3 separate regions of the Homo sapiens genome follow, and regions 1 and 3 are each linked to region 2. The links come from fine-mapping of genetic effects on gene expression. A gene starts in region 2. Each other region holds a variant in brackets. All regions are shown on one strand. Distances are between the middles of the regions. Region 1 has its middle 140 kb from the start of RANBP3L. Region 2 holds the start of LMBRD2 (LMBR1 domain containing 2). Region 3 has its middle 12 kb from the start of UGT3A2.

What was found.
Region 1: its variant is fine-mapped to the expression of LMBRD2 in lymphoblastoid cells (GTEx, PIP 0.99).
Region 3: its variant is fine-mapped to the expression of LMBRD2 in whole blood (TOPMed, PIP above 0.99).

What each region holds. Positions count from the first base shown.
Region 1 is chr5:36,432,277-36,442,609 of GRCh38, reverse strand. No RefSeq gene overlaps it. Among named protein-coding and RNA genes, the nearest start is that of RANBP3L, 140 kb to the right of the region's middle. RefSeq lists an enhancer at 1-554. The variant A/G (reference allele first, on the strand shown) is at 5,058.
Region 2 is chr5:36,148,079-36,158,411 of GRCh38, reverse strand. LMBRD2 (LMBR1 domain containing 2) reads left to right here and starts at 6,525. Exons shown (of 18, transcript NM_001007527.2): 1 at 6,525-6,856. It overlaps SKP2 (S-phase kinase associated protein 2), which reads right to left and starts at 6,301. Exons shown (of 10, transcript NM_005983.4): 1 at 6,142-6,301; 2 at 5,370-5,641. The coding sequence starts at 6,149. It also overlaps the pseudogene RNU6-1305P. RefSeq lists enhancers at 5,995-6,184, 6,258-7,241 and silencers at 6,455-6,594, 7,195-7,254.
Region 3 is chr5:36,073,664-36,083,996 of GRCh38, reverse strand. No RefSeq gene overlaps it. Among named protein-coding and RNA genes, the nearest start is that of UGT3A2, 12 kb to the right of the region's middle. RefSeq lists an enhancer at 4,533-4,582. The variant C/T (reference allele first, on the strand shown) is at 5,324.

The sequences.
Region 1 (10,333 bases), 280 kb before region 2:
TGCAGGCACAGATAAGGGAACTTGCACAGTGGGGCTTACCTAAGACATGCCCACAGACATACAGATAAGAAAGGCTACACAGGTGACTTGCCCAGACATGCCCGCAATGGAAAATTCCATCTCCTGACACATGCACAGTAAGGCGAACAAAGCAATATGGAGTAACTCAAACTAAGGGCCTGCACGTGCACTAGGAGAGAGGGGTATAGCTACCCGAAATTCGCACCTTATATAAATAAGATGCCCAGCTCTCATCAGTGTTTTATTAAAACCTTTGCATTCAATTGTAAAACAACAACCCTCTTTCAGGTCCCCTCTCGGCAGTGGAGAGCTTTCTTCTTTCACTTATTAAACTTTCGCTCCAACCTTGGTGTCTGCACTCCTTAACTTTCTTGGTCATGAGACAAAGGACTCTGGGTACTACCTCAGGCAATGAGAGACTGCAACAAGAGGGGGAAAGAAGAGGTGTGTGGTGGTTGTTCAAAACATGAGGGATTTCCAAGAAGGGCAAGCATAGCTGGGGCTGTAGCAGAATGTAGCATGAGGGCTCTGGGTACCTGAGAAGGAGCTAGGATTAGGATTGGAATCCAAAGGCACATAATATAGCCACTTCCTTTCCTAGTCTAGTGGCCTTTGGGGAGGGTATTCGCCAAGTGGGGAGAACAAATGTTGAGGCTGGTGCTGACTATCTTCAGAGCCAAAAGGTGACCTTCTTGTCCCCTCTGCACTCACTGAATCATGGGGACCACATCCCCATCTTCTGATCCCCATCCAAAGCTGGTTGTGCCAGTCACAGATCGCAGAGCCCATCAGTGCCCCAAGGGCCGAGGGGTACATTTCAGGCCTTGTGCAGCCTTCTCTGAGCTGTACTTTCCTTTGATTCTGTTGTTCTTGTTCCATCCGAGTGGGACCTCTGTTCCTATTCTGAAGGCCACTGTTAAGTCCTATTCACTCTGAATGGCTCATTTAGTTCAGTGGGGGTTTGGGTTTTTAGAAGGTTTTCTCTTTTAAATTCCTTTTTTTCCTTTTTTTTTTTTTTTTTTTTTAAGAAAAAGGGTCATAAAGAACTTTAAGATGCCATGCATGAAAAGCTCTGGATAAATGCAGCTTGTACTGGATTGTAAAATACTGTATTGTTCCAACCTTAATTCCTTGTGTGAGACTGGAATTGGTAATTTCCTGGTCCAGGGCAGAGGCTGAATACCAACAGACTGCAGACTGGAAGCAGGGGCGCTGTGGCCTGGGAGCACTTGGGGAGAATTTATGGGGAAACCAGAGGTCTCTACAAGAAATTCTCCTTTTGGCCCAGATTAATTTTCCTGACTTTTGCATTAAAGTAAAATAACATTTTTATGAAAAAGCACATCTCTGCTCTCTGCAGTGGCATTTGGGGGCTGGGGTGTGCCGCTGTCTGGGGTCACAGACCGTTATAAATCACATAAAAAGCTTCCTCAGCTCTTCTGCTCTGAAAACTCACTCTATCTGGGGTGTGAGCATGTTTGCTTAGCGGGCAGTCCTCCTTCTCTGAGCTATGGAGACTGTTTTGACCTTGAATCTCCCTCTCACCTCTCTTGATGCTTAGGTCCCAGAATCACCCAGTTTCATGCCAGCAAGACCGAGAGCCCCTCACATTCGCCACACGTGTCCCTGACTCCTCGTACCTGCCTCTATGCTTCCCTGGAATCCTCCGCTTCCCATCTGTTTCTCTGTAAAGACTGATCATACTTCCCTGCTTCCAAGCCATCTCCTCCTTAAACTATGACTACTTGCAACTTTGTTGGTCTCCCTGAGTCTCTGATCTCTATGGTACTCATAGTCATGAACACACATTTTAAACCCCTTTTTTGGTTTGAGTTTGGTGCCCAGGTTTGATTGTAAACTTCTTGAATGCCGTTCATTTCCTGTAATTTGTATCTGCCATATGTGCTTTCATATGAGCCCAGCATAAAGCCAGAGCCTCATAAATTCCCATTGGTTGGATTTCTGATTGATTGGTTGGTTGATTGATAGATACCCAGGCCCCATATGCCCAGATGTCTGAGGTAGTGCTTTGCTCATGGGGCTCCAGGAGTCAGCAGAGCTGTCCCTGACTCCTGTATTCACATGAGCTGATAATTTCACTCCCCCACCCCCACTTCATCTTAGGAGCAAGATACAGCCTCTGTTCTGGTCCCAGAAAAAAAGTTTACTCGCGCCACAGTTTTGTGAGGTTTCATAGACTTTTACTAAACATTTGCGTAGATGGTCGGGGAGCTACTTTGGCAGGGTGTAGCATCTCACCATCTTCCTTCTGTGTAACGATACACAGTCCTTGTGCATGAGGCTATGTGCTAGCAACCACCTTAAATGACTTATTAAAGTGTTTCTTCTGAACAAATACCATGCTTAGTCAAAGAATAATTGCAATAAATTCTCATTATTCTCCTGGTTTTTACAGCAGCAGTACCCAGAAGCGTTGAGTTTGCCCTCTGTGGATTCAACTACTAAAAGTGTTCATCAGAGAATGCAGCCACTAAGGGAACCTGGGGTTAAAGAGATTTCAGATATTTCCAAGCCTCCTAGTCAGTAGACGGTCACCCTGAGCCTTTTGCCCCTGTCTTAGCACTGTGGGAGACCAAGAGTGAGGTCTGGGTCCCCAGTAAACATTGCCAAAAGTGCCCCTCAAGATCTGGGCATGAAAAAGTAAACAGATCTCCCAGGCAGAGCTTGGCAGCTCAGACCCCCACCCCTCCCTGTCAGGAGCTGTTCACATGGGTGTCTGTGCATCTCTGGCCCCAGGCTGCCACTCTGCCCCAGCTTCCAGCCTCCTGCCTCATGGATATAGCAGGTTTTTAGTCATATACTTTCAGAACAGCATAGATTTCACTTTAAGGAAAAACAGACTTGGTGCTTGGGTCATTGCTGTATCCTTGCTATTACACTTGCCTGAAAGAGTCCCCCTCTCAACTTCTGCTCCCAGGCTTCCCCCTCTGGCTTGGCCTTTTGTGCCACTCTTCTGTTTTTTTTGCTCCTCAGATGTGCACACATTTTAAATAACATTCCTTCCTGAATTTGTCCCTTCATTTCCCCAGCTTCTGTGCTTGGGGACTCTCCAGCTCCCATTCTTTTTCGCGCTAATGTTCTCTTCTCCATCCTTTGTTGACATGCCAATTTATTCAGCGCTTGGCTTCCCCTTCCTCTCCTCACTCTTTTCCATTCCTTACACTTCTCCTAACTGACAAACACTCCCCAACAGTGTGTCTGTGTGTGTTTGGGGTCTAGACGAATAAACCTATTTTGGCCCTCATATCCTTGATGAGGTGGGGAGACAGGTTTCTTGTTCCCCCATATATTCTCCTAAATGTCAGTGCGGTCAATCTGGGCACAGAGCCAAGTTTATGCACAGGCCAATGACTGTGTGCTGTGCAGGGTGCTGGGAAGGCCATGGTAGCAGTCACTCTTGGTTCTTTGCCCACCAGCCATTTTGCCTTTCTTCTTCCTAACTGAACCCTGATTTTGTTTGGGCATATAGCCACCTGTGCAGTCATATGTTTCAGGGGAGGTGAGCTTCATGCCTATTCCTCAGCTGTGACTCTTGATTGTTCTAAGTAATCTTGATTGGTTTAGGCATAAGTATGAGAAACAGTCTAGCCAATGAGAAGGAGAAAGAAGCCTTCAGGGTGGGTTGAAGGAGGGGCATCTGCAAAAGGCTGTCCTCTATCTTTAAATGCTACACTGGGGAGTTAAAGTCCTTCCAATGCCCTGTATGTTGTCTCAAGGCTGGGATGGTGAAATCTACTACAGCCCTCTTGCAAACATGAGAGGTCAAGCCTCAGAAAACAAAAACAAAAACAAAAACGGAAACAAAATATTCTGCAGAGAATGGTAGAAAAGAAATATGAAAAGGAGCTGTGTCCTTGATGGCATCTTTGATCTGCTGAAGCTGCCTTACTCTGAACTTGTTGTGTTTAAGATAATAAATTTCCCTTTCAAGCCATTTGTCCTAGGGCTTATTGTTTCTTGCAACCTAAAGTATCTTAACAAGTAGCTCTTCTGACTGAAAAGATTCCATCAAAACATACTTCTCTGTTCACGTGGGTGTCTGTGCATCTCTCTGTTGCTTAGCTTGTCATACACAGATCATCATCAGCAAGTAGGTACACATTTCATATCACTTTTTATGTGCCAGACACTGTTCTAAATGCATTGCATAAGGTAAATAATCCAACCCTTTCAAAACATTATGAGGTAAATACTCTAATTATCCCCATTACACAGATGAAGAAACTGAAGCATAGAAAGGTTGAGAAAATTGCAGGGTCCCCAAGCAAGTAAGAAGCAGTGGTGGGATTTCAATCTGGACAGTCTAGCACCAGGGCTTATAATCTTAAAATCAATGTTAAACCATCAACTTTGAGTAATTCTAGACCCTGCTAATCCTAGGAGGGGGCACATCTTTCCTGTCCCCATGCAGGTTCGAGTTAGCCGCCTTGCCTTGAGTGTAGGGCACTGTCCACACTTCCTCCTGTGTGTCTCTTCTCCAATGGAAAGAAACTAATGCCAATTTTGTTGGACCCAGAATTGGTGGCTACCTCATCTTTCCACAGCTGAAGATGCCAGGAAAATGCCCCTAAGGTGTCAGGGAAATGTGTCCCAGGGGTCACCATTCTCATGCATGCTTTATTGCTGGTGCAACCAAGGGCTAACTTGATTAAGCCCCCCAAACTTAGGTTAACCTGTCTTGCTTGCTTTTAATCATCTGCTTCTAGTTGAGCTGAAAACCTGTATATACGGTTTGGCTAAAAGTCATGTAGCCACACAATACATAACAAACACCGCCACTAGATTCCATATAGGTAACAGCTCTGATGTATATGGCACTACACTAATGGCTGCTTGAAGTTGTTTCTTAGGACCTAGTTGTTTCTTAGGACCTAGCTGTTTCTTGTCCAGTTTGAACCAGTTGAGACCACCAACCCTTCAACTGGGCCTGTGCAAATGCCTAAGAGGTGACCTTTTGATGTCAAAGGGCCTAAAACTCTTCCCTCCAATCATGCTAACATCACCATTTTCTGAAC[A/G]TAAGTCCTGTGAAGAGCCATGAACATCAACTATGCTTGTGCAAACCACTAATTACCTAATTTTTCCCCACTACCAATCACATTTCCCCACACCTTAGACCACCCTGCTTCTTTACCCTACAAATAGCCTTAAGCCCTGTCTTCAAGGAGGTAGATTTTAGACCTGTTCTCCCACCTCCTTGCTTGGCTCCTTGTAAATAAACTCTTTCTCTGCTGCAAAACTCGTCTTCTCAGTGATTTGCATGCTGTGTGATGGGTAGAATGGGTCTGGTTTGGTATCACTGGCAGGATTGCACCAGGATGAGTAGAACTGGACACTGGGCAGCTTGAAGGCTTGCCAAGGGAAGGCAGAGACTGGGAACCTCCCCACCTTCCCCTGGGCCTCACACTGGCCCAAGTTCAGGTTATCTCAAGTCCCTTCTGCAACTTAGGGATTCCTGGCTTGGGAGAAAATTGCCAAGGTTCCCACAGCTAGGAAGAAGCAACTGTGGGATTTGAATCTTGTAGACTGGATTCCCAGTGACTGGATTTCCAGTGAATCCAGTGTACAAGAACATGGACATTTGTTGTCGAAAGGATTTTAATAATCTCCTGGTCCTACCCTCTTCCACCTCCTTGATAGCACTCAGTGTCAGAAACCACACTAATTATTTTGACAAAGAACATTTAATATGAATGATTATATTCTTCAACTAGGGTTGAAGAATTGAAAAGGCAAAAAGATGTATCACAGAGGAGGGACTGCAGGAAGCAGCTACCATCCTTAGGGCTGTGGAACAAAAGAAGAGATTGGAATTTCTAGAACTTAGAAACCTAGAGAAAAAGACATCTGAGATTGGAGTGCCTGTCTGCTGGTGTTGATGGGGAAAAGAAGTGTTGTTAGGGTTGTGCTGGCAGGACCATGAAGCCCATGGAAACCCAACAAGAAGCCATAGGGAGAAGCAAGTCAGTTCTTCCTCTGCCAACTTTGCAGTCATCCTCTAGTGCTAGCTACTGTAGAGTGTAACATGGTGTCAGATGACACAGCAGCATCACAGAACATAGAAGGGAGGGTTTGAATCTAGAAAACAATAGCTAATTCTCTCTCTGTCTCTCCCACAAGAGAGAATAGCCAAGACGATTGCAAGGGAGATGTTTATCAATGGGAATTCAATAAAGTAAGAAAGCTCTTATTTAACTTCCATCTCATTTGCACTGGAGGCATAAGAGGAGCAACCACGTGAGAATAATGCTCTAGAAAAGTCGGTGTGCATGAGGCTTAAAAGCCACATGGTAGGAGCAACTTGTATATGGTTTGTTGCAGGAAAGTTTAGTGTTTGCTGAGGGGATTGTCATTAGATCTTTTCTGAATTTTAGGTAAAATAAAGAAAGGAATTGGATAACATTTGATTATCTTCTTATTTCTTCCTTTGATGCCTATTATTCCCATAATATTAGCATTGTCCTTTAAAGGATCTTCTCTTCTCTCTGAAAAAATGCTGCCCTCATCTCTTGAGAAACTGGGGAGACTTCATCTCCACTTCTGGGGCAAAGAGTGATGTGTTCCTGGATGAATGAACACTTACTAAGGACTTTCTATGTGCCAAGCACTTAGAAGTACTCTTACCACTTACTACCAGTGTAACCTTGGTCAAATTACTTTTCACACTTATGAAATGGAGATACTGCCTATTTCATGGAGATAGGAAGAATAATGGAGACACTGGAAAGCTCCTAGCCCAGTGTTTCTCATGCCTTGTATCTCATTGTTTGCTTATGTGCTTAAACTCCTTTGATCTCAGCAGTCTTCATAACAACTTGGTGAGAAAAAGCATATCTACCTTCATCTCGCAAGTAAAGAGCCTGAAGCTCCAGGTAGTTAAGTGACTTGCTCAAGACCGCACAGCTGAGCCAACAAAGTGCAACTCGAATCCAAATCTTACTCTTCTAAAATCTGAGTTACGCTGAGGCCAGCATACCACCTTCTAATGACCAAATTGGAACTCAGATTACTGCTACCTATAGAATTGATCTAGAAGTAAATACAATTAGCCCAGAATAAAATGTTCATCTTCCTTAGTAGTCAAGGCAATGCAAATTAAAAGAGAAGCCATTTTTTTAGCCTTTTAAATTGGTAAAGATTTGAGGAAAAGTAGAGCTGGTTAAAATGCTCTGCTTCTGGTGTTAGTTGGCCTGGGTTGAAGTTTCACCTCTAGTACTCACTGGCTGTGTAGCCTTGGCCAAGTCCTGTAATCTGTTGAAGACTCAATTTTCTTATGTGTTAAAGGAAGATTATGGTTGTACTTATCTGATAGAATTGTAGAATTTAAATGAGATTATCTGTGTAAAGAGCTTAGCCTGGGGCCTAGCATATAAATATTTAAAGAATGTCAAAGAAAGGAGAAAGATATTTGATACTAGCGTTGGTAAATGTATAGTGGGACCTGTATTCTCATTTACTGGTAAATGCTCAAACAAGGGCAAGTTGGTCTAACTATTCTGGAGAATAATTTGCACTTTGTATAAGAACTTTAGATGTTCATATTCTTTGACCAAGCAGTTTTACTTCTAAGAATATGTTTTAAGTAAACAATTGAATACGAATGACGTTTCATTTATATAGATGTTCCTTTTAGTGTTAGACAAACAAAAATGGAAACAGTCAAATATCTAATTATTGAAAAAGTATTAAATAAATGTTGGCATTGTCACAGGTTGAAATACTACACAACAATAAAATGATGTTTATGGGACATTTTTAATGATGAAAGAAATACACATATTGTGAGAAAAAGTAAGATGAAGAGAAAGAGCATATGTTAGAATTGTCTTTTCAAATTAGAAGAAAAGGAAAAATTCGATAAGCATTATTAAAATAGTTTTTATCTTACACGTACAAAAATGTTTTATCCTATACCTTATCACTAAATTAAATGTACAAAATTAAAATGTACAAAAGATCTAAATAATGAACAACTGCTCAAGAATATTAGAAGGAAATATCAGCAATTTTTTATGACTTTGGTGTTTATAAATTATTCTTAAGACACACAAGAGCAAAAATCATTAGGGAAAAGGTTACTAAGTTTGATTACATCAAAAATTTAAAAATTCTCTTTAAAACAGAAGCATTCCCTTAGTCAACAAATATTTACTGGGCATCTATTATAATGCCAAGGACTGTTGAATATTCTGGGATATAGCAGATAATGTCTCTGCTCTCTTAAAGCTAATATCTAAGAAGAAGAGGTAGAAAAAGAACAAGTGATAATATAAATATTGAATTTGTTGAGTGGGAGCAAGAACTACTAAAAAAAACACATTAGAGTAAGAAACATAGCAGAAGTGACAGAAGTGAAGATTACTATTTTATTGAGTGAGCAGGAAAACCTTCTCTGAGAATACGACATTTGAGCTGAGGCTTGATGAAATGAAGGAATGAAACATATGGGTATCTTGAGGAAGAAAATTCCAGGCAGAGGGAAGAGCTAACGAAAGCCCTGTGTCAGGAGTATCCTTTATATATTTGAGTTTAGTAAAGAGACCAGCGTAGCTTGAGCAGAGTAAGCATGGGAAAAAGTAGGAGAAGATAAGGTGGGAGAGGTAGAAAGGTGGCAAGTGACACTGGATATCTGGTCCTTTGTATGAATGTTAGGTTTTATTCTGAGTGAGGTGGGAGATTACTGAAGAGAGAAACAGAATTTGGCTTAGGTACAATGAGAGTCACTCTGCCTGTAAGACTAATCTATAAGGTGGCAAGGGTGGTCATAGAGAGACTAGTTGGAGGAGACTGGAAATAATCCACATGACAGGTGATGATGACTTGGCCTAGGCTGACCATGGTGAATATGTTTTAGCTATTCTAGCTCATTTGCTCTTCCATATAAATTTTAGAAACAGCTTGTCTATACAGAATCTACAAAAAATCCTGCTGGTTTAATCTTTAAAGATCAATTAATGGTCTAACACTTTTTCATGATTTAAAAAACTCAAGAGAATAAAAACAGATGGGAACCTTTTCTACCTAATAAAGGGCATCTATGAGAAACCCACAGCTAGTATCACATGTAATGGTGAAAGACTGAGTGCTTTTCCTCTAAGATCAGAAACAAGACAAGGGTATCTGCTCTCACTGCTTCTATTCAACACTGTACCAGAGAATCTAAGCAGGGCAATTAGGCAAGAAAATGGGATAACAGTTATCCAGATCAGAAAGGAAGAGGTAAAATTGCCTCTATTCACAGATGGTACAATCTTGTATATAGAAAATCCTAAAAAATACACACACACACACACACACACACACACATTATTGGAGGTCATAAGAAATTTCCACAAGGTTGCAGGATACAAGACCAATTACAGAACCAGTTGTATTTTTATATTTTTATATATTTTTATACAATAGAATAAAAAGAATAAAACACTTAGGAGTAAATTTAACAACAGAAATGCAAGGTTTGTGCACTGAAAACTGCAAAACATTTTTGAAATAAGGAGTAAATGAACGAAAATGTGTTACATGTTCATAGGTGAGAAGACAATATTGTTAAAATGACAATACTTCCCAAATTTACCCACAGATTCAATGCAATGCTGTCAAAATCCCAGTTGACTTCTTTATAGAAATTGACAAGCAGATCCAAAAATTCATATGGAAATGCAAAGAACCACCCAGAACAGCTAAAACAACTTTGAGAAAGAACAGATGTGGAGACTATCACTACCTGATATCAAGATGCCCATCTCTCTAGGCTCGACTTATTCCTATAAGATATTTTAGCTTTGGGGGAATTGTTGGACCTGAACTCTGCAGGGAGGTTTTGCCCATGAGACGGGGCCATTTTGACCTGAGCACCCCTTGGTCTGCTGGCCTCTTCTGGGACCCAGCCTGGATGTGCCTGCTTGCAAGGCAGCCTCTGGTGCCTTGGGGGCCTGCATCATAGCTCCTGTGCTGATGGACCACCTGACCGGCAGAGTGCTCCAGCAGAGTGGGCCCCATGAACATGCACCAGCTCACCTGTGCTGCCCCCGATGCAGCCTCCCCCTGTGCCACTTTGCCTGCATGCACTTGCCCATGACCTCCCTGCACCATCCTTTTGCTGGTATGCGTACACCTGGGGCGACCTTGTCTTCCCTTCCCAACCAGTGTGCATGTGCACGTGCATCCTGCTGGTGTGACCATACCTTTCTTCCTCCCCCCTCCCCTCCCCCCATCCACCTCCCACTATCCCAATCCTCTGGCCACACCACCACTGTCATCAGAACTTTGGTGGGCATGGAGCCCACCAGCCCCA
Region 2 (10,333 bases):
CAGCAGATGGGGCAGAAGTTTGTCTTTAATAGCTGCTCTAGCAATAGGCATCCAGGCTGTGATATGCTTAATCTAATTTTCCTTGCCATATTTAATTCTCAAAACATTAGCCATCTGTTTCCTGAATTCATGATGAAACTGCTGCCTGGTCTGTTTGCAGAGAGCGGAAGGAAAAATCCAGAGGTCTTTTCTCCACTTGTCTCTGCTAAATCCAGCAAGGCTGTAGCTGCATACCAGACCCACATTAAAAGACATAATTACTGAGCCCAAGGTCTCCAGTCTTCAATGACATGGACGGCAGTTAAATATACTTCAGGGCCAGGAAAGGGCAAAAACTGGGCCAAACCAGCAAACCTACTACAATCACCCTCACCTACCACTGTTTCCAATTATTTCTCAGGTGCAAACCCAGTTTCCCACTTCTGTAACCTTATCACATCTCATGCTTCCTGAAATTCTCTGGGAAGAGGGCCTTGTTGGAGAGTTTTCTATGCATTCCATCTTTGCAGTGTAGGTAACTCATCTTACTTGACATATTTATTTCTCAGAATATCACTCCACTCATTTATTTCTCAGAACATCACTCCACTCCACTCAGATTCAAGCTGAAAATCCAAAGTAATGCTAATCATAATCAAACTTTTGACTTAAAAAATTGCTGCTCTTTAAGCATAATCAGATTATACTTGCAGAAATGTATACTGAGGACCTGGTACTCATACTTGTTTTTGTGTGTGTGTGCATTTCTTTCAGGGAGTTGGGGGGTGCTCACCTCAGAATTGCTTTTGCTGGCTTGTTTTAAGTAGCAATACCCCATGCTTTCTTTCTGGGGAACTACAAACAGATTGTGCCATCCCAGATGAGTTCTCCTTCCTCTTCCCACAAACCATAAATAATACATTTGAGGCCATGTTGGCTTTGGGTGTTTTTGTTTTTTTGGCTAAGGTGGGCAAAACTGAAAAAAACAAAACACAGCCAAACTTAACAAGGATTCCCCCATGTACCCCTTCAGTCCCACAACCCTTTATTTCTATGAAAGACTTGCTCAACCCTGAGGTGTAGGGGGTGTAATGAAGAAACAACAGAAGCTGGGATTTGGAAAAAATATGGAACAGTGTATAAGCACTATGAGGGCAGGGTCTCTTGCCTGTTATGTTCAGTATTGTAGTCCCAACCTCTAAAACGGTGCTTGAGAAATATTTGCTTAATGGATGAATGAAAGGAAGCTATGGAACAAAGAAAGATGACTGGGAAGATCCCATAAAGGCTCTTCCAGTGCTGAGTTTAGTAACTGTAGACTGAGACTCACATAGATCATGAAATCAATTTAGTGGGTTTGACTAGCATATATGTACATATAAAGAATGAACTAGAACAGAATAGAAAATATCTTAGTAAGGGGAAATACAGTTTTGTAAAACTGCTGTTTCAGATACATACCCAGGATTGCAATGTAAAATATGTTTCTTACTGGTTAAAAAAAAAAAGTTGGAAAAAATGCTTGCCTAAGGGTATTAAGACACAGATTCCCAGGCTCACTCAGGCCAGGACTCCCCGGATCAGAATCTCAGGAATTTTACACTTTGAACAAGTTCCTGTGGGGATTCTGATATACAGTAAATTTTAGTATCTCCAGTCTGACAACCACTTTAGGGTCTGGAATTTCAAGCATTTAAGAGTCATGGAAGAGCTGATCAACAAATTAGTTCACCTCCATTTTCATGGCTATCACCTGTTTAAAGGGTGGGGTGGGGGACAAGCATTTCATGACCATAAATAAAATGCAATTGTCCCCTTTCCGCCTGTTACTGACCTCATTGCTGGGCCATTTCCTCCCCAACTCTTTCCATACACTCACTCCAAGGGCCAATCAGACCTGTTCTAGTACAGGTTGGCCACAGAGCTTTCATCTTCCCAGATAAACGGATGAAGAGGATTTAGTTGCCAGATGTACGGCTGGACTGGGGCCTGCAGGGAGAAACTGCTTAGCAAAGAACCAACAAAAACTTGCAGCCCAGAACCAGTCATCAGATATCTATGTACAGCAGGTGTGGCCTGTTCTACCCTAATCCTGGCAAAGCTAGTAGCCACCTGTCCTGACAACTGCAGACAAAACTCCTTGGAATGACAATCCGGCTCCACTGGAGGCCCAGGCTTCCAAAGGCCCATTGGGAATCCTCTATACCAGCTGTCCCTCATCCTGCATCACTGATTTCACCCTTCCCCACTCCACACCAATTAAGCAATCTCTGTTGTAAGTCCACGTACATTGGTTTCCCTCTGTGCCTCTCCTTAGGTAATAAACATAAAAGTCACCATTCTTTCTCTCTCCCTTCAGATATATACTTTTGAAGTCAGCTTTAACCATCAAGACACTGATTACACCATTTTCAGAGCCCTCTCTTTCCTCAGAATCTCCTTTCTTGCTGAGTGGAAGGAGGAAGATCTTCCACATCCACCTGAATGGGAATCACAGCTCTTATTTTTTATTGTATTTTCTCCTCAACTTGACTTGCAAATTCCTGGGAAATAGCAAAGACTCCGGAAACTTCTGTCTTGTTCCCACAGTGCCTTGCTTAAAAAAAATTCTTTTTCACTTGTGGAAGGGCATATAGCAATCACACTCTATGTCAAAAGCTATCGGCACTGGACAGGTTAATAAAAATCTGTTCATCTTAGCAGGAAGTATCTTTCGCCATATTTGGTTGGTCAAGCACCAGATTGTTAGGGCTACATTCCAGACACAAAGAAGAGCGGTGAACATTAAATTTTGAAGAAAAAAAATTTTATACTAACAGGGTCAGAGTAACAATATTAAAAACAAAAGATAAAAGTCCACTAGCCTCCAAAATTGGTGTCAGGAATTTTGTTGGCTTATGTATTGTTACGTGTCAGTGGCATGCTAAGGGTTTTACGTCATTCTCATTTAATCTTCACGACGACCTGTGAAGTGGGTATTATTACAGCACTCCATTTCACAGATAAAGGAACTAAGGCAAAGAAAGCTCGAATAACTTTCCAAGGCTGATAAACGCAAGAATGAGGATTCAAACCCAGATCTGACTTCACTACAACCCTCTACTGCTTTTCTAACTAATCCAATTCCTGATGTATATTCCCAGACCATAAATTGGGCAAAGTTCTCTTTCCTAAAGAAAAGGCTGAAAACAAACGTATTTATTTTCTTAATTAAAAGTGGAATGCATCTCGAATCCGCATGTCTTCCTGCGCAGGGGCCATGCTAATCTTCTCTGTATTTCCAGTTTCAGTATATGTGCTGCCAAAGCGAGCAACCAACCAATCAACTAAACAACCAATCTATCAACCCTTCTGCAAAGGAAACCAGATGGGAGAATTTATGAATATACTTAAATTACCTTGGGTCTGCAAGACTTCATCTTTAAATGTTTAATCTGTTTCTTCTTCGCCATCATCCCCCACCTGATTTCAATTTAGACTCTGATCACCTCTTCCACAGATGATTTCAACAGCCTCCTAAATTCTGTTGACTTTAATGTGGGAATATATCCGGAATCTGACCACCCTCACCCCCAACAAGACTTCAAGCTTTGGCCAGGTGTGGTGGCTCATGCCTGTAATCCCAGCACTTTGGGAGGCCAAGGCTGGAGGATCGCCTGAGTCCAGGAGTTTGAGACCAGCCTGGGCAAGATGGTGAGAACGCCCCCGCAACCTCCATCTCTACAAAAAATAAAAAAATTGCTGGGCGTGGTGGTGCATGCCTGTAGTCTCAGTTACTTAGGAGGCTGAGGCAGGAGAATCGTTCGAATCCAGGTGAAGACAGTGAGCCAAGAGCAGGTCACTGCATTCCAGCCTGGGCAACAGAGCAAGACTCCGTCTTGAAAATATGAAATTTAAAAAAGACCCTAAGTTTCTACCCTTGATGCCCCTGCAGCTGAGTCTCAACACATCAGTGTGTCATTTTTAGAAGGTTAAATCAGGTCCCATCACAACTCTGCTCAACATTACCTCCAGCCTGATCTCCCCCGACTCTCCCTTTCGCTCATTCCACTCTTAGAATATGGCTTCCCTGTTCCTGGAACAAATACGTCACATTTATGCACCAGGGTCTTTGCAGTGGCTGTTCCTTCTGCTTGGAGCTCTTTTCTCCAAGATATTTGCATGGCACACTCCTTGCCTCCTTTATGTCTTTGCTTAAAGGTCACTGTCCAATTGAGGCTTTCTCTCAATACCTGGTTTAAAAGTGCACTCTATCTTCCCACCCCAAGACCTGCATTCCCTCTTGGCTTGTTCTATTTTTGTTTTTAGCCATAGCTCTTATCACCTTCTAACATACTATATAAAAATAGTTATTGTGTTTATTGTATTCTCTCACTAGAATGGATGCTCCCTGAGAGCAGAAATGTTTGTTGTGCCCACTCCTCTATCTCCAGCACCTGGAACACGGCCTAGCACATGGTATGTGCTCAGCAAATATTTGCTGTATTACTGTTTTAAATAGCTTACTAGTAAGAAAAACTGATAACCCCAGGTCAATGCCCTGTTTATCCTATGGCTTTTGCATACTCCAGGGTTCTGGTTCACTCTGGGAGGCACTCGTTCGCCTGCTTGAGGAACTAGGGGATGGGGAGCTATTAAGGAGGGAAGATACAGTAAGTTCTACATTTCAGTCAATCCATTCTAGTTCGGGGGATAGATCTGGGGAGAAGAAGGTTGGAATTATGAATCCACTCCAATAGTTCAGGCAAGAGACGACGAGAACTTGAGAAATAGTTACCAGAGAAGAGGGAAAGATGCGATGAATGACTGGATGTTGGGGGGCGGTGGGAAGCTGACTGACTCTCAGGTTTTCGGGTTGGGTGATTAAACAGATAGTGTCAGCAGTAATGGAGACAGAACATACCAGGAGAAGCCAATATGGGGGTGGGAGTGGGCCTGGGGAGATGTCTCCCCCACTTAGGTGAACGTTCACTTCGCAGTCCACTGATAAATAACTAAAGTGATTAAGGCAAAAAGATCACTCAGGGGTACAAAGCAAAAGGAATCCTACAAGAAGACCACTGTTTATGTTTCTGTTAAACGGTGAAACTGAGCTGGCCTTGAGGCAGGCAGATTCCCTTCTAAGGAAAAAGGCAGGAATGTCTTCTCATGGGTTAAAATTTTCAAGGTGATTATGCACCAGAACATACATATATATATATATATATATATATATATATCTACCAAGATTCCTGCATACTTGACGACTTGCCCTATTTTGTTGAAAAATAGCTTCAGAATTAGGCAATCTTAAAAGGAACCCATGCTAAAGATCTCTGAACAAAGGTTTCCCAACAACATAGCTAAATCCACCCTTTGCATAACTGACATTTTTACCCTCATGTCCTTACCTGGAAAGTTCTCTCGATTTAGCTTAGGCCTGCGGACAATCACAAAGTCTTTGTCACTCCCTTTGCTCTTCAGCCGTTTCCGTGGGGGGCTCTCCGGGTGGCCCAGGTTTGAGAGCAGTTCCTGGGGGATGTTCTCACTGTCGGGCTCCTCTTTCTCCAGGGCGGAGACCCCCATGCCTGACAGCAGTTCAGAAGTCTTGCTGGAATCCCATCCCCACGTGAAGCTGGTGGCAACGTTGCTACTCAGGTCTGGAATCTCCTGGAGGTGCTTCCTGCAGAAGTGCACAATACCCCCGGTTCCTTTCGAAAACACACCCATAAATAATTTCAAGGCAATTAAAGAAGCTGCAGTTTATGCATTGTAGGAAACCTTCACAGCAGCTAACAGAATCGCATTTTTTATGTGCCTGCGGCGAGTTACCAAGAAAACGAAGAAATGAAAAGAACAAATCGAGAAGGCTTTTTGACTTACGATCCTGCAGAAGGCCTCAAGAATTTCTCCCAGTGGAGGGAACAGACAAGGAGAGAGACAGGGCAATCATACACTGATTGAAAACGGTGGCAGAAAAGCCCAATTAGGGAAGCCAAATAAAACCACACGCTGATCCCCGCACTAAGGCATCCATCCATTCACACTTTCCCCAAGAAGGGGCTAAGCAACCATTCACTTAACAGCATTACTAACAATATTAGCCAGTAGCGATATTCGCGGCCTAAAAGAATTATTAAGAGGGTCCATTTCATGCTCTTCCCCTTTTTGCAATCCGTTTACCTGTGCATAGCGTCCGCAGGCCCGGGAGTTTAAAATACGTGCATTAACTGCAGAGCTGCTCGCCTCCCAGATTCCCGCTTTGGCGCGCGGCGGCTCCGAGCGTGCTGCTCGGGCCCCCAGCAGCCAGACCCGCTAAGCCTAGCAACGTTCCATCCCCACTGCGCGCGCAAGGCTCTACAGCCCGCTCTGCTTCGCGGCCGCACTGAGGCCCAAGGCCTGCTGGGAATTGTAGTTTCCGTCCCGCTTCGTAGTCCGACGGGCTCGCCCTTACTTCCTTCCCTTGCAGCTTTACCCGCCTTCGAGATACCCACAACCCCCCGCGGGAGCGGGACTGGTCGGCCCACGGGGTAGGCGGGGAGGCGGAAGCGGGCGGCGCTACGGCTGACTGGGAAATGTCAGCCGCTGGACTGTAGACGGATTTTCCTTTCTCGGGAGCCCGCAGGCCTTCTGGTGATCGCCAGCGCTGTCGTCTCTGAGCGTGGATCCCAGAACCTGGACAGCTGTGGCGGCCGCCGTTTCCCGGTCCCGTCCAGACGCTGTCTGGCGAGATCGGACGGTGAGCCTAAGGCGGAACGCGTGAGGCGCTTTTGAGTCTGGGGTCCGGGGCCGAGAGCAGGCGGAAAGAGAGGGGACCCGGCAGACCCCGAGTGGCCGCCGCTGCGGGGCCCAAGTCCTTGGCTGCTGAGTGGTGACAGTAGCCCAGCCCGCCGGCCAGGTGAGAGGCTGCGAACTGCTGGCGTCGCACCTGTTCGTCCTTTTGCCAGGAAGCTTCTTCCTCCGTCGGGGAGAAGGCGGCCCTAAGAATTGGGTCTGTGGACGGGATCCTTCCTTTATCTGTAAAATAACGCACAACAGCTAAACACGCCGTTGGAACGAGAGACAATGGTTTAATTTTAGGGGAGCCGGAGACCCCAGCGGGTCCTGTGTGGTGGGAAGGCTGCGCATGCCCTTGCAGCCTTGACAGGTCTCATAAATAGCAACATGGGAATAAATGAAAGGACTGTATTTTGCAACGAGCTTTACCCGTGCACGCAGGGGGCCTCCAGCAAAGCCATTTGGTTGCTTGCTGTCGCTCAGCTGGCTACGTGTGTTTGCGTCGCCGCCTAAAAGCGAGCTGCTTTCAGCCTATCTCTGCTGAGAAGAGTTTGGGGGCAGTAAGAGTAGGGAGCGTGACATATTCCAGGTACAATGACCATGCGAAATCCATTGGGCAAACTATACTACAACTGTGACCCCGGGAAAACAGTGGAAGAGGGAAGGGGGATGAATTCTAAGCCTCATAAAAATGAAGATTTATAAAGTTCATAAGGAAGCATAACAGCTTCATCGCATATTAGAATATTCAGTGATGCTGTATGACACACCCTCTGGTTTCCTTGAAAAAATGATTCGCTCTGTAGTGAAATTAAACCTCCCTTGTGCAGGTATATGCTTGTTTCAAGCTTGGTCCTTAGCTTGAAAAGTAACTGCCTCTTGAGGAAGGAATTCATGAACCTTTAGCTCGTTCTTGAAAGATGAGATTGGTGTAAAGAAGGGATCTGTTCACAACTTGGTTTTGATTGGAACTAGGTGCAGAATCCTAGGCTAAGCCGTTCATCAAACTAATGTTATATGGAAAGCATTTTAAAATGCAATATCCTGATGTTTTACAGAAAGTGACCTTTATGTTACTTTGGCTAAGGAGAAAGCATTTGCCTTTGTTTGAAGCTACGTCCTTTCCCTGAAGATTGCAACTCATAGGAGAAAATATTTTTGACACAAAAAATTATAGTTTCCTTCAGGAAAGGGAACAAAACAGAGAGAGCCTGTAAGCTAATGGAGGAGAAAGAATAAACAAAAATATTTAAGATGCCATAATGAGAATAAACAGTTTTGAGATGTAAAATAATTGGGAGAGCCCACTTCAGATATAGATCTCATAGATAGGAAGGTTTAATCGATGAGATGATTCTAAATTTAAAGATGAGAAATATCTTTGTTCAGTCTTGGTTTTACTAGGAGTTACCTGGGAACTAGAATACTTGCAACATCTGAATTAGTGAACACAAGATCCTCTCTAGGACTTCAGGGAGAGCCTGTCAGTTTTGAAATTCAGTTTGATAGTTTGCCCCGGTAACAGACATACTTCATCTTCCTAATATGGGAATAATTTTTTTTTGCCTTCCTTCTAATCATGACTATTGCCTTAATATAATAAATGCAAGTTTAAATTGGTACATTAGATTCTTTTTAACGTAAGGAATTGTGTCCATTGAAGACGAGATTAGTAGGTACATAGAGGTTGCTATCTGGTCATAAAGAACTGCATTGTGATTGCTACTGATGTATCTTATTTTTTCTGATTAATTTTATTTTTATTTTTTGAGAAGAAATTTCACTCTTATTGCCCAGGCTGGAGTGCAATGGCGCAATCTCGGCTCACCATAACCTCCACCTCCCATGTTCAAGCAATTCCCCTGCCTCAGCCTTCCTGAGTAGCTGGGATTACAGGCATGCGCCACCACGCCTGGCTAATTTTGTATTTTTAGTGGAGACGGGGTTTCTGCATGTTGGTCAGGCTGGTCTCGAACTCCCGACCTCAGATGATCCACCCACCTCAGCCTCCTAAAGTGCTGAGATTACAGGCGTGAGCCTCCGTGCCCAGCCGATTCTTACATCTCTTTAAAAGGAAGACGGTCCACCCTTCTTTGTTTCTCCATCCTGCTGTCTAGATGATGATAGGATTCCTGGAGTTCCAGCATCTGTCCTGGAACATAAGGATTAAAGCCACCTGCTAAGGATGTGGACTATAGAAGGGGCCTGGGCCTCTGATAATCTGCTAACTTGCCATAACCACCTATCTCAAGACTTACACGAGAAATAAATTCTGCATTGTATAAGTCTGTACTATATTGGACTTTTCTGTTATGTGTAGCCAAACTAATCTTGAATAATGTATTTCCAGAACTGATAGTCTCTGTGGTGGTGGCAGCTACCTGTTTACATAACCCTTATCACCCCCTAATGTATTTTTTTTAATTGCCTGTTTCTTCCCACTAGACTTTTTAAGGGCAGGGACTTTGCTTGGATTTTTCTATCTCCAGCCCCTTGAACAGAGCTCACCATATAGTAGGCGTTCAGTAAATATTTGCTAAATGAATGAATGGTGCTTGGAACTAAGTAGATCTTTAATTCATTGTAATTTAATGCTCTAAGATAGGCAGCTTGGGGCAAGAACAAACGGATTCTAATTTACTCTATGTTTTCCACTTTTCCCATGTAGAGTACAGTCATATATTACCCTTAAATCAAGTAATAGTAGTATAATCTGTAATGTAAAAAGTTTGCGTTAAATTCTTTATTAAACATGACTAAGCATTCTGTCCTGATATATCTAAAAGAAATGGGAGAAAGTTTCTAATTTGTTCCCTGTGAAGACTGAACAAAATAAATCATTAAGCAATTTAAATTGCATTAAGAAACTATGTCTAGATTAGAGAAGAGACATGTAATTATGATCCAGGCTCTGTAGTAAAGATGCCTCTATTTGAATCCCAGCTTTACCATTCACCAGCTCTGTTAACTTGGACAAGTTACTTAACCTCTCTGCACTGTTTTTTTTCTGTTAAGCAAGGAAACGAACAGCCCTTTCTTACTAGGTTGTGAGGTCTAATTTGATAAAGCTTGGCAGGTACTAGTATTAATACAATGCTTAAAATTTAGTGAACACATTCTAAATGTTAGCTATTCGTTTTTTGAAATTATTTTATTATTAGGAAGGACTTTACAGATTATTCTCTATCAAAATGTCTTGCAATTTCTATGTATGAAATCTTTAAGAATTCAGTAAAATTTTAGTTCTTTTTTCTTATATGCTTACATGATTGCTACCTCTTCTCTTCATGCCTTGCAAAAGGTAAAGCAGGACAGTATGCCACTGTCCTCAGGGGCTTGTCACATTTTGGAATTCAGGTTACCTGGTTGGTTCGCCAACTCAGCTCTTAGGTACCTTTAAAAAATATTATGATGGTTTTTTTTTTTTTTTCATTTTTCGAGTGGGAGTAATAGTCTCTTGCAGTAGTCTGTGTCCTAAACTGAACTCTCTCATACCTGAAATCTTTAAATATGTGAATAACGATTATGTTTGGAAGATTTAAATTTAATTATTGGTGGAAAATTGTTGACTTAATCATTCACTTCTAATTCTGGTTCT
Region 3 (10,333 bases), 74 kb after region 2:
TTGGTTATGTGTCTCCCTTATGTTTCCTCATGGTTACAACTGTGTTCCTTCTTAATGCTCTGAGGGTGTGGGTTTCTCTCCCCATTGAGTGCTGGCTGTAGATCATGGCTTGGCATTCTTGGGCTTTCCACTACAGCTCTGGGGTGATCTCAGTGTTTATGTTCCTTTCCCAACTTGAAAGGAGCAAAAGAAGGGATCTTAGTAGTGGTTGTGGCCAAGGGCATTTTGCTTGTCTTCTAGGGGTTCCACCCCAGAGAGATGCAAGTCAGCAAATGCTGAGTGCAATCAGCTCAGGATGAAGGGTCTGTATTGTGGACCAAGCCAGGGGTTCCCTGTCTTAAGATGAGCAGTGAGGGGTATGTGGGACCCATGGGAGATGGACTGGCCTCCTCTCCTTAGGTCAACTGCAGCTTATTGGAGGTGTGAACAAAGCACTTAGGGTCTTTGCTTGTTTGTTAGTTGAAGGGTAGCAAAGGCAGTTCTACTGCAGAGGCAGTGGCAGAGAGGCTTTCAATTGCCCCTGGAGGCTCTGTCCAGAGAGTTGCCAGATTGCTACTGGCTTGATAGCTCTGGGGTTGGGGGCAGTTGCTGGAGGCCGAGGGCTGGAGGACATGCCTGATGAGGAGATATCGGAAAGGGCACCCATATTACGGTCTGGCCACTTTTCCATAGGGCTGTTGCAGTATGCTGGGGGTGCACTCCAGTCTGCAGTCACCTCAGATTTTCCAGTACCTAGAGGTATCACCATTGAAGGCTGTAAAACAGCAAAGATTGAGCTCTGTCCTAGGGAGGTATGGACCTGTTGCTGGCCCATACACACCTATAGGAGGTGGCTGGAGATCCTGGTTGGGAGGCCCTGTCTGGTGAGGAGGAAAGGATCGGGGACCTGGTTAAAAAAACAGTCTGGCCACATTTTCGTAGAGCAGCTGTGCTGTGCTGGGGGTCCACTTCAGCCCCTGATCGCCTTGGACTCTCCAAAATCTAAAGGCCAGAACAGCTAAGTCACCCAAACAACAAAGATGGCAGCCCCACTGTCCCTCTGGGAGCTCTGTCCTAGGGAGGTTTCAAAACTCTGTTGGCTGGAGAGCACTGGCAGGGGTGGCTGGAGACCCTGGTTGGGAGGTCCTGCCCATTGAGGAGGAATGGGATTAGGGACCCATTTTGAAAAGCAGTCTGTACAGGTTTTCACAGAGCAGCTGTCAAATTCTTTTTTTTCTACTTGCTAGATTTCTATCAAGCTGTTGAGGATTTCTATTGAGTTTTTCAGCCAGATATTGTATAGAATTTCTGTTGGCTTATTTTTATGGTTTCTGTCCCTTTGTTGCACTTTCCATTTTGTTCCTGTAGTGTTTTTCTGATATCACTTAGTTGTCTATCTGTTCTCTTGTAACTCACTAAGCTTCTTTAAAATGATTATTTTTTGTTTTTTTTTTTTTGGTCAGGCCGTATGTAGATTTCTATTTATTTTGGGTCAGCCACCAGAGCTTTATAGTGTTCCTTTTGTAATACCATAATTCATTGATTCTTTGTGTTCTTTGAGGGTTTTCTTTCTTTGTTTGCATTTGCAAAAGTAGTCACCTATGTCAGTCTACTTTCTAGCATTGCGAGAGATAGACCTTCCTCAGTAAGTCCCACTAGAGATTCTGGGGTCTCTCAGACCTTTTCTATGGATGCATCTGCTTCACTCCTCTTGTTCCCTCTAAGGGAGGAAGTCTTATGATTATGTTCTGTCTCTCAGTCCTGTAAAACCAGACCTGGTACTGAGAGTTTATCTGTTTTACCCAACAATGCCCCAAAGTTTTCAAGGTTGTGTGCTTCTTTTCACATTCCAATGGAGTTGAACCTGCTGCTAAAATCTGCATCTGCTATTCAGATCCATGTGCCATTTGCAGGAGTACTTAGGCCTTGTGCACAGAGATGCACAGGGCAACATCCTGGATGGACACACAGTATGTTTAAGGCATGCATTAGTTTGTTAATGGGGGAGTCTGCCAGCAAGTTTTCCTTGTGTGGGGTTTATGGGTGGGCCTTTTGCTAGAATCCTCAAGCCACTTAGCAGAATCCATGTCCAGCTATTGAGAATCACACACCAGTTGCTGTGTACTTCTTCCCCTTCTCAATGCTTCTAGCTGTCCCAGACATTTCAATTTTCCTGATCCCCTTAATGTTCTGGGTGGGCAGTGTACCACAGGCTGAGAAAACTTGTAATTCAGTTTTCATTTTCTCCTTTGGGAGAAACTGTGGGCTAAGAAGGACTCCCTGGGCACTGAGCTGTGCCACCTGCTACTTAATTTCTATTCTTGTGTCTTCTTTGGGTGAATTAGAGGTATACTGTTATTACACCGCTTTATTTCCCCTATTGACTTTTTAGTTTGTATGTGTGTGTGTGTGTGTGTGTGCATGTGTGTGGGTGGGTGTGTATGTTCATGTGTATTTGTATGTGTATGCGTACGTGTATCTAGTGGTTCCCTTAGGGATTATAACATGCATTTTAATTTATTGATCTATATTCAAAAATTGTCTATTTCATAACTAGATATAAAGAAATCTTCCTCATCTAATAAAAAGTATTTACAAATTCTAAACTGACGTAGCATTCAATGGTGAAAAAATAACTCTATTTCTTTTCCCTAAAGTCAGGAACATGACAGGCAGGTCCACTCTCGCCATTTCCTTTCAACATTATATGGAAGTCCATGGAATGCAATTAGGCCAAAAAATAAAATAAAAAAGAAAGAATAAAACTCTTGGCAGATTATGCATTTAGGTACATGGAAAATCCAAGGGAATCACAAATGGTTCAGTAAACTCTCAGTACCAGGTCTGGTTTTACAGCTATTACTAAATGAACCCAACCTTGTCATAGGATAAAAGGTCAGTTTACAAATATCAATTGTATTTCTATATACCAGAAATAAACAATTGAAAATTGACATAAAATGTCATAGTACATTTTATAATAATCATAAAACAAAATCTTTTAAATAAATTAAATGATCTGTACACTGAAAACTATAAAACCTTGGAAAAAATTGAAGAGGATGTAATTAACTGGAGATGGATTGGAAGAATTAACATTGTGAAGAAATCAATTTACCCAAATTGATGTCTAGATTCAATTAAATCTTGAGAAAACTATAAAATTACTATATAATTATACTATAAATGTCTTTGTTAAAATTAACAAGTTGTTTGCAATGTGGAATAGGAGAACTTCAGAAAAATTAGAATTCCAGATTTCAAGATTTACTTTAAAGCTACTGTGATTAAGGCAGTATAATATTAGAATAAGGCTATCAAGGTCGATCAATGAAACAGAATAGTAGTATTCAGAAATAACCCCACAAAAAATGATCTTTTGTTTTATGACCAAAACCCCAATACAATGTGGAAATAAAAGTTAAAAAATTTTTCCCAATAAATGTTGCTGAAGCAATTATATACCCACATGGAAAAAATGCCCAGCACTGTACATAGAAAATTTGAAATGAATCATAGACTGAAGTATAATAGATAAATCAATAAAGATTCTGGAAAAAAACAAGCGATGTATTTTTGAACTCAGAATATGCAAGGTATTTTTTATTGGACAGTATGAAAAGCACTAATCTAAACATAAAAAAATAAATACCTTAGAATTATGAATAGGAAATTCCATTAATCAAAAGATACCGTTAGGCGAATAAAGGACCAGTCATATACTGGGAGAAGACAGCACCCAATGTATATTGAACAAAGGACTCTGATCGAGAATATATATAAATTCCTACAAAAAATAAGACAAAACAAAAAAAATCCCACATAATTTGAAAAATGACAAAATACTTGCTTAGGCATTTCATAAACAAGGCTACCCAAATTGCCAATAATATATTTCAAAAGTATGCAACATCATTGGTAATCAGGAAAATGCAAATTAAAACAAGGAGATATTAATAACTAACACTAAAAAGACTTACTGACAATTCCAGATTTGGGAAGGCTGTGGGGCAAGTTGAACTCTCATACATTGCTGGTGGTAGTGGAAACTGGTACAATCCTTAGAAGAACTCTTTAGTAATATCTAAGAAAGCTTAACCTACCCTACCTTGTGATCAAGGAATTCCACTCCTAGATTCATACCAAGATAAATGAATGCACATTTCCAACAAAAGGCATGCATAAGAATGTTCATTGTAGCTTTATTTATGATGGTAAGAGCTGGTAACAATCAGATTCTCATTAACAATAGAATGGGATGAAGGGTGGGGTCCAACTTCCCCTCCCTATATGGAGCAGCCGTGCCCCGGCAACTGAGGACAGACCATGAAGTTTCCTGCTCTGGACTGGGGGAAGAAATTCTGCCCTGACCCCCATACTAGTGGTATCCCTCAGAGAGGTCAATCTGTGGTGTACAGCTACACTGTGGCCGGGAACCAAAGAACAAAGCCTTTGTAAACAGGTCATGAGCCCTGTGACGGGGCATGATATGGAAGCAGATCGTGTTCCTGCCAGCTCAGGACAAGGAGCTGATGCACTTTCTGCTCCACCTTCCCGTGAGACTTCAGCATACTCCAACAGGATCTCTTTCTGCCATCCTCATCAGGGAGGGCACGTACACTAGGCATCAGCCTACCTGGTAGCTCTTACTTTTTATCGCCATCTACTGGGCTCCATCTGAACTCCACCACTAAACAAAAAATACATAGCTACAGCAAACAGCATCTGAGATAGCTTGTGGATAGGTTCCACCGCCTAGAACCCATCCACAACCAAGGAACCCGTACAGAATACTTGTCTCCTGAAAGCACCTAGAAACTAAGCCAAATGATCATACACAATATGCACCACAGTCATACACCCCCAAGGGAAAAAATTAAAAAATGAAAAAGCCTCACCCAAATGATAGCAAATTCAAAAAAAGAAGTTACAGCATCTTTGGATGAGAAGGAATCAGCACAGGAACTCCAGTAGTACAAAAAGCAACAGTGTTTTACACTTCCAAAGGATCACACCAGCTACCTAGTAATGGATCCTAACTAGACGGAAATGTCTGAAATGAAAGGTAACTCAAAATATGAATTGCAAGGAAACACAATGAGATCCAAGAGCAAGTTGAAATCTAATACAAAGAAACCAGAAAAATGATCCAGGATATGTAAGTTGACATAGTTATATTAAGGAAGAACCAAACAGAATTTCTGGAATAGAAAAATTCACTACAGAGATTTCAAAATACAGCTGGAAGACATAACAATAGAAAAAACTAAGCAGAAGTGATGGCAGCGGCAGCTCCAGATGGCCTGCCGCTGCCATCACGCAGGCTGCAGTAGAGGGGTGTGGA[C/T]GGGGTTGCACGACCAAGGAGCAGGCAGGAGCCGCAGCCCCACGGAGCAGGCAGGAGTCGCACGCCCCATGGAGCAGGCAGATCTAAGCCTCCCTGTGCTCTTGAGGTCCAGGAGCAGGCAGGAACCCTGCCCTCCTGGGTGCCACTGCAGCTGCCCAAACCACAGCTGCAGATCCAGGCTAAAAGGAGTTCTGAGCATGGAACAATACCTGCTACAACAAAAGCACGTGTAAGTAAAGCCCATAGACTCTACATAAAACAACTACATAATAGAAACTACAAAGCAACTAGCTAACAACTAGCAACTGGCTAATAATACCACAATAGAAACAAAACCTCACATATCAATATTAACCTTGAGTGTAAATGGCCTAAATGCGCTCCTTAAATGACATAGAATGGCAATATGGATAAAAAACAGATTTAACCCTCTGCTGCCTTCATGACATCCATCTCACGTGTTCAAAATAAAAGGATAGAGAAAGATCTATCACTGAAATGGAAAATGAAAAGAAGCAGGGGTAGCAATTCTTGTATCAGATAAAACGGACTTTAAACCAACAATAGTAAAAGAGAACAAAGAAGGGCATTATGTAATGATAAATGGTTCCATTCAACAAGATGATTTAACTATCCTAAATATATAGGCATTCAATATTGGAGCACCCAGATTTATAAGACAATTACTTCCAGAAGTAAGAAAGGAGATAAACAGCCATATAATAACATAATAACAGCATTAGACAGATCACAGAGACAGAAAACTAACAAAGAAATTCTGGACTTAAATTTGATACTTGACCAAACAGAACTAATAGACATCTGGTGAATACTCCAGCTAACAACCACAGAATATATGTTATTCTCATCTGTGCACAGAACTTTCTCAAAGATTAACCACATGCTCAGTCATAAAGCAAATCCTAACCAATTTAAAAAAATGAAATTGCACCAAGCATCATCATGCACCGCAGTGGAATAAAATTAGAAATCAATACCAAGAGGAGCTCTGAAAACCACACAATTACATGGAAACTAAACAACTTGTTCCTGAAAGACTTTAGGGTACATAATAAAATTAAGAGAGAAATAAAAAATTATTTGAAATGAATGAAAATAGAGGTATAATATACCAAAATCTCTGGAATACAGCAAAAGCAGTGGTAAGAGGAAAGTTTATAGTGCTAAATGCCTACATCAAGATAGAAAAATCTCAAATTAACAATTTAATGTTGCACCTGAAAGAACAAGAACAAGAACAAACAAAAGAACAAGAACAAACATACAAGAACTAAACTCAAAGCTAGCAGAAGAAAAGAAATAACTAAAATCAGTGCAGAAACAAATGAAATTGAGACCCCCAAAGCCATAAAAAGGATCAATGAAATAAAAAGTTAGTTGTTTGAAAGGATAAACAAGATTGATAGACCACTAGCTAGATGCAGGGAAAAAAGAGAGAAGATACAAATAACTACAATCAGAAAGGGCAAAGGTGACATTACAACTGATTCCACAGAAATATAAAAGATCCTCAGAGACTGCTATGAACATCTGTATGGGCACAAACTAGAAAATTTAGAGTAAATGCATAAATTCCTGGAAATACCCAGCCTCCCAAAGTTGAACCAGGAAGAAATGGAAACCATGAATAGACCAATAATGAGTTTTGGAGTTGTATAAGTAATAAAAATTAACCCACTATAAAAAATTCGGCCAGGTGCAGTGGCTCATGTCTGTAATCCCAAAACTTTGGGAGGCTGAGATGGGTGGAATGTTTGAACCCTGGAATTTGAGACCAGCCTGGGCACCAATGTGAAATCTCATCTCTACAAAAAATACAAAAATTAGCCATGTATGGTGGTGTGTGCCAGTAGTCCCAGCTACTTGGGAGGCTGAGGTGGGAAGATTTCTTGAGCCCAGGGAGTCAAGGCTGCAAGAAGCTGTGATCACTCCACTTCACTGCACCCTGGGTGACAGAGTGAGACCGTTTTTTTGTTGTTTTTGTTTTCGTTAAAAAACAAAACATCCTGCTCCATCCTGGAGCAGATGGATTTATAGCTGAATTCTAACAGACATACAAAGAAGAGCTGGTGCCAATGTTACTGAAATTATTCCAAAAAGTAGAGGAGGAGGGATTCCTCCATAACTCATTCTAAGAAACCAGTGTCATCCTGATACAACATCTTTCAAGGACACAACAAAAAAAGGAAACTATAGGCCAATATCGCTGGTGAACAAAGATGCAAAAATCCTAAACAAAATACCTGCAAAGCGAATCCAGCAGCACATCAAAAAGATAATTCACCATGATCAAGTGGCGTTTATTCCTGAGAAGCAATGATGCCTCAAGATGTGCAAATCAATAAATGAGATTCACCACATAAACAGAGTTAAAAACAAATACCATTTGGTTATTTCAATATATACAAGAAAGCTTTTGATAAATCCAACAACACTTCATGATAAAAACACTCAACAAACTAGGCATTAAAGAAGCATACATGAGAACCATCTATGATAAACCCACATCCAACATCATACGGAATAAACATAAGTTGGAAGCATTCCCCCTAAGAACCGGAAAAAGGAAAGGATATCCACTCTTACCATTTCTATTCAACATAGCGCTGGAAGTCCCAGCCCGAGCCATCAGGCAAGGGAAAAAAAAATAAAAGACATCCAAATTTAAAAAAAGGAAGTAAAATTATCTCTCTTCAATGACGATATGATTCTATACCTAGAAAACCCTAAAGCTTATTCCAAGAGGCTCCTAGACTAGATAAATGACCAGTAAAGTTTCAGGATAAAAAATCAATGTACAAAAATCATTTACACTTTTACACATCAACAGTGTTCAAGCTGAGAACCAAATCAAAGATGCAATTCTGATTATTATGCATATTATGCATTGCATGCCTGTACCAAAATACCTCATGTATCCCATAAATATATACACCTACTATGTGCCCACAAAAGTTAAAATTTAAAAATAAAAAAATGCAATCCTAGGCCGGGCATGGTGGCTCACGCCTGTAATCCCAGCAATTTGGGAGGCCGAGTGGGGCAGATCACTTGAGGCCAGGAGACCGAGACCAGCCTGGCCAACATGGTGAAACCCTGTCTCTACTAAAATACAAAAATTAGCTGGGCATGGTGGTGGGTGCCTGTAATCCCAGCTACTCAGGAGGCTGACGCAGGAGAATCGCTTGAACCTGGGAGGAGGAGTTTGCAGTGAGCTGAGATCGTGCCACTGCACTCCAGCCTGTGTCTCAAAAAAAAAAAAAAAGGCAATTCTATTCACAATCACCAATAGAACCCCACAAAATACCTAGGCATATATCTAAACAAGGAAATGAAAGATCTCTGCAAGGAGAACTACAAAACACTGCTGAAAAAAAAATTGTAGACAACACAAAACAAATGGAAAAACATTCCATGCTCATGGATTAGAAGAATCAATATTGTTAAAATGTCCATACTTCCCAAAGCAGTCTAGAGATTCAAAACTATTCCTATGAAATTACCAACATCATTTCTCATTGCATTAGAAAAAAACTGTTCTAAAATTCATATGGAACCAAAAAAAGAACCCAAACAGCCAAAGCAATCATAAGCAAAACAACAACAAAGCCAGGCATCACATTACCTAACTTCAAACTATCCTGAAAGTCGACAGAAACCAAAACAGCATGGGGCTGGTACAAACATAGACACATAGATAAATGAAACAGAACAGCGAATCTAGAAATAAAGCCACACACCTACAGCCAACTGATCTTTGAAAGGTGGACAAAAATGAACAATGGAGAAAGAACACCCTATTCAATAAATGGTGCTGGAAAATTGGCTAGCTGTATGCAGAAGAATGAAACTGGACACCTACTTCTTTCTATGTATAAAAATTAACTAAAGATGGATAAAATGCTCAATATAAGATCTATGACTATAAAAATCCTAGATAAAAACCTAGATAAAACTTCTGGACATTGGCCTAGGCAAAGAATTTATGACCATGTCCTCAAAATCAAATGCAATAAAAACAGAAATTGACAAATGAGACCTAATTAAACTAAAGCGCTTCTGCACAGCAAAAAAACCCAAAACAAAACAACAACAACAAAAAACTATCAACAGAGTAAACAAACAACCTACAGAATGGAAGAAAATATTTGTAAATGATTCATCTGACCAAGGGCTAATGTTCACAATCTACAAGGAATTTAAACAAATCAACAAGAAAAAGACAAATAACCTCATTAAAAATTAGGCAAATGACATGAACAGACCTTCTCAAAAGAAAACATACAAACAGTCAACAAACATATGAAAAATTGCTCATCATTAATTATCAGAGAAATGCAAACGAAAACTACAATGAGATACTATCTTATACCAGTCAGAATGGCTATTACTAAAAAGTCTAAAAATAACAGATGTTGATCAGGCTATGGAGAAATGGGAAGCTTATACACTGTTGGTGGGGATGTAAATTACTTCAGTCCCTGTGGAAAGCAGTTTGTCCTGCCTAGGGACTTAGACTCCACACACTTGACCTACTGCATCACCAGCCAGACACATTCCACAGCCCACTCTGACTCTTACAAGCACAGGGGATTGGTATATCACCGGGGTGTTGTGGGTCTCCTGGTGATTTAACCCTCAGCTGGGACTGGCCCTAAGGTATAAGGTATGAGGGAATTCCAAAGTCCCCCTTGATGCAAAGGAAATGTGGGTGCAGTGCCTGTAGTTGAAGGATATGTCACCAAGGCCTGGGAGCAGACTCAGAAAAGATATCAATTCTCGCCCCTGCCTCTCTTCTCCAGGGCACTGTTGCATACGTACTGTAAAACAAAAGGGGCACCTGGCTGAGGAAGAGCCTATCTGTGGGCCTTACATTAAGTGCCATCTACTGGATTGCAGCTTGAGTTACACCACCAAACAATGCAATGCCTCTGAAACCCACAGCAGGAAACCATCTACAACCTAGGAACCCATTCAGAGCCTCAGCCC